2 linked regions of the Homo sapiens genome follow. The protein of the gene in region 2 interacts with the protein of the main gene of each other region in a biochemical or structural test. Each region holds a gene or a part of one and is shown on either strand. Other genes may lie near its edges.

The links.
Region 1: of the proteins of PRDX2 (region 2) and TXNDC5, one has a biochemical effect on the other in vitro, tested with the Homo sapiens proteins (one study listed by BioGRID).

The regions. Positions count from the first base shown.
Region 1 is NC_000006.12:7,890,154-7,893,801, forward strand, and holds part of TXNDC5 (thioredoxin domain-containing protein 5 isoform 1 precursor), read right to left. Parts: intron 1,584-3,648; coding exon 1,468-1,583; intron 1-1,467. UniProt on the Homo sapiens protein: Protein disulfide isomerase of the endoplasmic reticulum lumen involved in the formation of disulfide bonds in proteins. Can reduce insulin disulfide bonds.
Region 2 is NC_000019.10:12,799,674-12,803,421, reverse strand, and holds the start of PRDX2 (peroxiredoxin-2), read left to right. Parts: upstream 1-1,621; 5' UTR 1,622-1,682; intron 1,683-2,151; 5' UTR 2,152-2,160; coding exon 2,161-2,263; intron 2,264-2,352; coding exon 2,353-2,506; intron 2,507-3,122; coding exon 3,123-3,245; intron 3,246-3,432; coding exon 3,433-3,563; intron 3,564-3,748. Other genes in the region: THSD8 (thrombospondin type-1 domain-containing protein 8 precursor), read right to left, coding at 1,203-1,350.

The DNA of each region.
Region 1 (3,648 bases), on a different chromosome or scaffold from region 2:
AGCTTTTTCTTTCATTTAAATCTCATAAAGCTGCTGCTTGCCCAACATTTTCATGAAACATCTTGTTCTAAGTCATTGCTTTCTTTTTTATTTTCTACCAGCACTAAAATAGGCAGGACTAAGTTGTTATTCACTATGTCAGCAAACGGGGGTAAAAATACTATTTCAACACCTAAGACCCGTCAGAGAGCAGCTAAGGTGCGGAACTGAAGTACAAGAGGCCTCAGCCCAAGGTCGGGAGAGGACAAGCATTTTTAAGGGTCCAGTGTAACCCAGCCACATGTGCCAGGGATGAAGGGCTTCAGCGTGGTCACCTGGGCTTGTGTCTGCTCACGCCTAGGTCTGCTAGGATCCTCTATGGATATAAACCTAAAAGAATCTCCCATAAAATTTCATACAATAATTAAGTAAGGATACAAGGAATGGGGTAAGACAGTAGACAAGATTATTTTATAATTACTTCCCCGAAATGTTCAATAAATATAAACTGATAATAACATGTATAATTAGTATATATTATCGTAAGCGTTTAAGAGGCAACAGTGAAATATCCATTTAACTGACAACAAAAGTGATTACAATTTACCAAGCATCTGCCCCATGCTAAGCATCACACTAAGCAGTGTACTTTCATCTGCCCAGACACCACACAGTAGATCTTAGCTCAGTTTTGCAAAGGGGGAGACCGAGGCGTGGAGAGGTTTTTCCCAAGGTCAGCCAGCCAGGTCTACCCAACCCCCAAGTTTATGCTTTTGACCATCTCACCATCCCAAGTAGATCATCCTGTTAACCATCATTCAGTCCTAGACACGCAGCATTACTTTTGGATACAAATCAGCCCCATGGCAAGGTAGAAAAATGAGATTTTTAAGAAAGGAAATCTATGCATGGTGTCTGGTGGGTGCTGGAAAGTGTAGAAGAATAAAAGTGATGTCCCTGGAGCTACACTGGATATTTCCAGAAAATCCAGTTACACAGAAGTTGTCAGACACCACTCTTGGCTTCTCTGTATAAAGTAGGAAATGCTGGAAAGAATCCCAGGCACAGTGCAAACTGAGGGAGGGTCTTCTGCGTGCTTGGGGGAGCACAGAGCCAGGGTCCTTTTAGAGAGAGCTCTTGGGTGAGGTCGAACGTGGACGGTCTCCAAGTTCGTCCAGTGAACATTCTACAAGGCTCTACCCCATCTCTTTGCAGAACGGGCTCTGGGGCTGCCAATTCAGATTTGGCCATCTCTTCAAAATAAACAAAGCAGCCGAGGCCATAATTTATCTCTAGGCTGTGGAAAAGCCAGCAAAACTCAAAATCAGACTGCCATCTGTGAAGGTGAAATGAATTATCAAGTGGCACACTAAATGGAATTAATAAATCAAGTTTGCGACTTTGCACACGGAATGAATAATGGGCCACTCTGCTAATTAATCCAGCCCAAAGCAGTCCATTTCCAGTTTAATAAGGGCTTTCACTCACCTTGCCAATCTTGACAGTTTCGGAATGTTCAAGGCCCAGAGCCAGCTGCTCCCAGGTTGGAGCCAGGGCTTTGCAGTGACCACACCACGGAGCGAAGAACTTGATAAAGTGGTCGCCTGGAGTGGAGAGCCAAGGCAGAGACGGGGGAAAGAGGAACTGTAATTTATGTCAGACCTCACTAGAGAGTTAATTGAAGAATCAGATCTTTGTCCTGCTTAGCAAATCTTAGTTCGGCATGAGCACTTTAATTGGTACAAAGGGACTCCATCAAATGTGTTTCTGTTCATGACTTCATAACAATACTCAAAACCAAATTTGTCATCTTTGATGGACAATCAGCAATCAACTCATTATTTGGAAAACTGTAATAAAAGGAAAGAATCAGGCATTTCTCCCACCTCTCCTATATGCACTGTACCGCTGAATAACCAGGTGATAAATGAGGGTGAGTTTCTCTTGGTTAAAAAATGAAGGGACGCTTGAATGAGCCTCGGCACTTGGCAGCCCTAAGGAATGGACGGACCCAGGCTCTGCCTGTCATGGTCGACCACATCCCAAAGAGAGACAACTGGACGTTCTGTGCCCCCACCAGCTATGAGGTCTTCTTGTGCCCCCAAAAAACATCACACTGAAACTGATTTTGTCCCCAGACCCAACTACCAATTTCCAGGAAACAGAGAAATCAGGGAAACATGTAGACCACACTACGGGGACACAATTAGCAAAGTCTGGACCACGGGGAGCTCTACAGGTCAAACCACCTATGTCTTCAGCAAGAAAGATAAAGAGATGTCTGGAGAACATGCAGGTTAAAAGAGCCTTAAAAGATATATAAACACATACACATATAGAACTATAGTGCTCAGGAATGTGCACTTCAGTGCACATAAAGGAGTTGATATGGTTTGGCTGTGTCCCCACCCAAATCTCATCTTGAATTCCCACATGTCGTGGGAGGGACCAGGTAGGAGGTAACTGAGTCACGGGGACAGGTCTTTCCCATGCTGGTCTCGTGATAGTGAATAAGTCTCATGAGATCTGATGGTTTTAAAAACGGGAGTTTCCCTACACAAGCTCTTTTTGCCTGCTGATATCCATATAAGATGTGACTTGCTCCTCCTTGCCTTCCACCATGATTGTGAGGCTTCGCCAGCCACGTGGAACTGTGAGTTCTCCATTAAACCTCTTTCCTTTGTAAATTGCCCAGTCTCGGGTGTGTATTCATCAGCAGTGAAAACGGACTAATACAAGTGGTTTCCACAAATGTCAGGCAAGTGCCTTCTTGGAGAAGGGAGGGCGGGCTGTGCCCTGCATGGGACACGGGAAGCTGGCAGTTTTATTTCTTGAACTGGACAGTAGTTACAGTGTGACCACGCTATAAAAATTCATTAAGCCCTACATTTGTTTTCTCGATCTGTATTATATTTTATCATAAAAAAAAGTTTAAAAAATGAAACATCACCCCCTTGGCTACGGGGAAAAAAACAAACAAACCCTCACAGCATCATTATTTGGACACAGAAGGTGTTTAGCTGTTCTACCCTGACATTGGGCTGATACCAAACTGAAAGCAGGCTGTGGCCGGGGAGAGAACTAACCAGTGGCATGTGGCCTGGCGTCTGAGCAGGACTCTGCCACACTAAGGCTCACAGCTACTGTCTCATCAGCACAGCAACAATGCACTTGAAGAAAATGGTGAAAAACTTCCTTTAAAAGTTAACAACTTCCATTAAAAAATGTGCAAAGCTGAAACCATGTGCAGGTGCACAGTAGATCCTGCACTGTAAGGTGGAGACAGGCTCTCTGGGAACCTAATCAGAGTACTGATGGGAAGCCAGCAAGGGCAGGAAGCCACCATGGTACCTACACGACACAGCTGTGTGGCAGTGACCCACTTAGGGAGGCGCTGGCTAGGCCTGCCGGAGTCGGTCTGTCCTGCCGGAGTCGGTCCGTAACAGGTGATTTGGGAAACACACCCTGCTCAGAGCCCAAGACAATCCCAGCTGAAAATGCATTCCCGTAGCGGAAAGCATGCTAGAGTTCTGCCGTCAGGGCGCTGGTATGGATGAAATAACTTTTAGCAAAAGTGGGAAAAGGCTGAAGGCCTCACGATAAGTTACTGTGGACAGTAAGTGTGGTGGGGGAGGGGCTCTGACTCCCAGCAGGCACAAGTCACAAGGC
Region 2 (3,748 bases):
GACCATGGCCCTACCTAGAAGGCACAATGCCACCTGACAGCAGGGTTGTCAAGTGATAAATGGCATAATTGACATAATGAAGGTAAGTAAATCTCCCGGTGCTGTGCTAGCATATACAAACCAATTTATTATGATCAGTTTGTTTATTTATTTAATTTATTTATTTTGAGACAAGATCTTGCTCTGTTACCCAGGTTGGAATGCAAGGGCATAATCATGGCTCACTGCAGCTTCAAACTCCTTGGCACAAATGGTCCTCCTGTATCAGCCTCTTGAGTAGCTGGGACTACAGGCGCATGCCACCATGGCAGGCTAATTTATTTTTTATTTTTATTTATTTATTTATTTTTGTAGAGTAGGGGGTCTCTCCATGTTGCCCAGGCTGGTCTTGAATTCCTGGGCTCAAGCAGTCCTCCCGCCTCGGCCTCCCAAAGTGCTGGGCCATCAAGTCAGGCTAATTTTAAAATATTTTTTGTAGAGATGGAGTCTTGCTGTGTGGGCCAGGCTGGTCTGGTCTCCGAGACCAAGGGATCCTCCCACCTCAGCCTCCCAAAGTGCTAGGATTATAGGCGTGAGCTACCGCGCCGGCCACTGTGATCACTTTAAAGGGCTCTTTACTGAATCTGCCCCTTTCCCCTATGAGACAGATCTTATCCCAACTCCGATCTTATCCCAACTCACCGCTCACCAAGGTCTGACACCTCCTACCCTCCCACACCCATGTCTCTGCCACACCTCACCGACCTCTTTCCATTTCTCCTTCAGGACTTTTCACCTTGGCATTTGCTATTCCCTCTTCCTTGGACATTCTTTCCCCAAATCTTTCCATATGGGACTTTCGCTTGTCGTTCTCGCTGCACTGGTCACGGGTCTTCTGCAATCGGACCCTCTCTGATTTCCCAAGCTTGCCCGCCCCCTTCTTTCTCTGTCTCTGCCCTTCCTGGCACCTATCCCCGAGTGACAGCTTCAGTGTCCTGCCCACACCCTCTCTTCCCCTGGGAGCTGCTTTAAAGCAGTATCTATTTCAATATATCCAAGAGTAAACCGAGCCTTAGAGAAAAGTAACCAGCCCAAGGGGACGCCTCCAGTGCGGAGCTGGGTGGAGATTTGCAGCCCGCCGAGGAAGGTCCCTTTGCAGCCAGCAGGAGAAGTAGGGCAACGGGGAGCCTTTGGGCATCGTCATCCCCGCCGCCTGAGGTTACCCTTTAGATGCTGCAGCCTCAGCTGCTCCCAGCTGTCACCTTCGCCCTGCTGCCCTAAGTACTGATAGTCCTGGTAGACCAGGGCAGGGGTCGCCAGCTGCAGGAGTAGCAGAGGCGCCAGCAGCAGCGCCCCCGGGGTCCGCGCCATGCTGGACTCCAACGGCCCCCAACGCGCTCCCAGGCGGAGTCGTGCGCGGAGTCTGCGGCGGGCGCATTACCCACGCGGGCAGGTGCAGTGGTCCCGGCCGAAGGCAACGCGTCTCCCCCCGCCGCCCGCAGGCGCATGGACCCGGCCGCACGCTCCCCCGCACCTGCGGGCGCAGTGGACCCGACCGCTCCGCTCGTCCGCTCCCTCCCCCGCGCCGTGCACGTCTTGGTTCGGGCCGGGCATAAAAGGCTTCGCGGCCCAGGGCTCACTTGGCGCTGAGAACGCGGGTCCACGCGTGTGATCGTCCGTGCGTCTAGCCTTTGCCCACGCAGGTATGAACACCCGGAGTGCACCTGGCGGGAGGACCCCCTTCAGGCTGCTTTGGCCCGATCCTGACTTTAGTGCTGGCCGCCTTTGCTTTCCATCCGCTATAGTGGCCTCCTTTGTCCTTGCGGGGGAAACCGAGGCCACAGCCTTGCAGCGCAGGCCTGATCGCCCGACTTCCCGCCCCCTGCTCGTGCGGGCCTCACTGTCTCCTTCTGGGCTGGGGGCTTGCGACACCGCCCTCCGGCCGACTCGCTCGTGGGGTGCTGGTGGCAGTGGCTGGGTCACTCGTGCTCTGGTCAGGAGAGCGGGTCTCCGGCAGCCTCCGGGCCTCGTAGACCGGGTACCCGGGAGGGTGAGGGTTAGTGCTGTCGCCTCCGCCGTGCTGACTCAGTCATAGGGCCCAGCACGCAGCGCGACCTTGGGTTGGGAGGACAAAGTGTCTTCCCGGGCGCACTGACCGGGCGGGGGTCTCAGCTTTCAGTCATGGCCTCCGGTAACGCGCGCATCGGAAAGCCAGCCCCTGACTTCAAGGCCACAGCGGTGGTTGATGGCGCCTTCAAAGAGGTGAAGCTGTCGGACTACAAAGGTGAGCGCCGCCCGGAGGGGGCCCAGGTAGAAGCGGGGCCGTGCATGAGAGAAGCTGGGCCCTAACTCCTCTGTGTCCCTCCTCCCCAGGGAAGTACGTGGTCCTCTTTTTCTACCCTCTGGACTTCACTTTTGTGTGCCCCACCGAGATCATCGCGTTCAGCAACCGTGCAGAGGACTTCCGCAAGCTGGGCTGTGAAGTGCTGGGCGTCTCGGTGGACTCTCAGTTCACCCACCTGGCTTGGTATGAGCAGGGGCCAAAGAGGGAGGTTGCAGCTAAGCTCACACCCTCAGGTCCTAGCAGTGTGGCTTCGTGGCCATTGCTCAACCTCTGGAACCTGCGTTTCCCCATCGTGAAAATAATGGAAACATTGCCGCCCAAGTCTTTAAGGATGATGACAGTAATTAGCATTTGACAACTAGTTGCCTGGTATATAGAGTTGCAGATGCAACTCAGATGCAACTCTATCTACTCTATGTACTTAGTTCCCAGGAGGGAGGCTGTGCTGCCCTATTTCATGAAGATGGAAACTCCAGTTCACCGAAGTGAAGGGCTGTACCCCATGACACAGCTAGAGGAGGATGGGGACTCTTAACACAGGCTCTCTGCTGGGTGATGCTGCAAGTTACAAGTACATGTGAAGCCACTTAGCTGGAGCTGTGCCTCTCAAACTCAGTCTTCCCAGCCATGGGGATACAGTCCTTGCACCCAACCCAGGGTGGGGTGGGTGAGGCTCCCAGCGGCCTACTCTAAAGCCCCTTATCTCCGGCCTCCAGTGCTTATCACATTGGGCCCACAGGGTGAGGACCCTGCTGTGCCAGGCATCCTGAGGCCCCAACTCTGTCTCCCCTACTCCCAGGATCAACACCCCCCGGAAAGAGGGAGGCTTGGGCCCCCTGAACATCCCCCTGCTTGCTGACGTGACCAGACGCTTGTCTGAGGATTACGGCGTGCTGAAAACAGATGAGGGCATTGCCTACAGGTACTGTGGGACCCTCAGCCCGGCTCAGGGAGCGCCCTGCCCCCCATTCCTGTGATGCTGGGACCACTCCTGTACAATGTCTTCTCTGCCCCCAGCCCTGTGGCTAGCAGCGGGTGGTTGGTAGTCCCTTCCTTGTCTCTGGCAGTGGGAGCTATCAGCTCCTCACTGGGAACCCTGATGTCTTCAGGGGCCTCTTTATCATCGATGGCAAGGGTGTCCTTCGCCAGATCACTGTTAATGATTTGCCTGTGGGACGCTCCGTGGATGAGGCTCTGCGGCTGGTCCAGGCCTTCCAGTACACAGACGAGCATGGGGAAGGTGAGCAGATACACACATGACACATGGGTACATACTGAGCGCCTCCGTCACTCATGCAAACATTCACTGCCTGTCCTCTTACCTGTCCAGATGGGTGTTAGGGCCCCAAAGAAGATTCAGCTCAGGGCTTTGTCTGCAGGATGTTTCTAATGTGGTAGGAGACAAATAACGCCTGACATTCAACC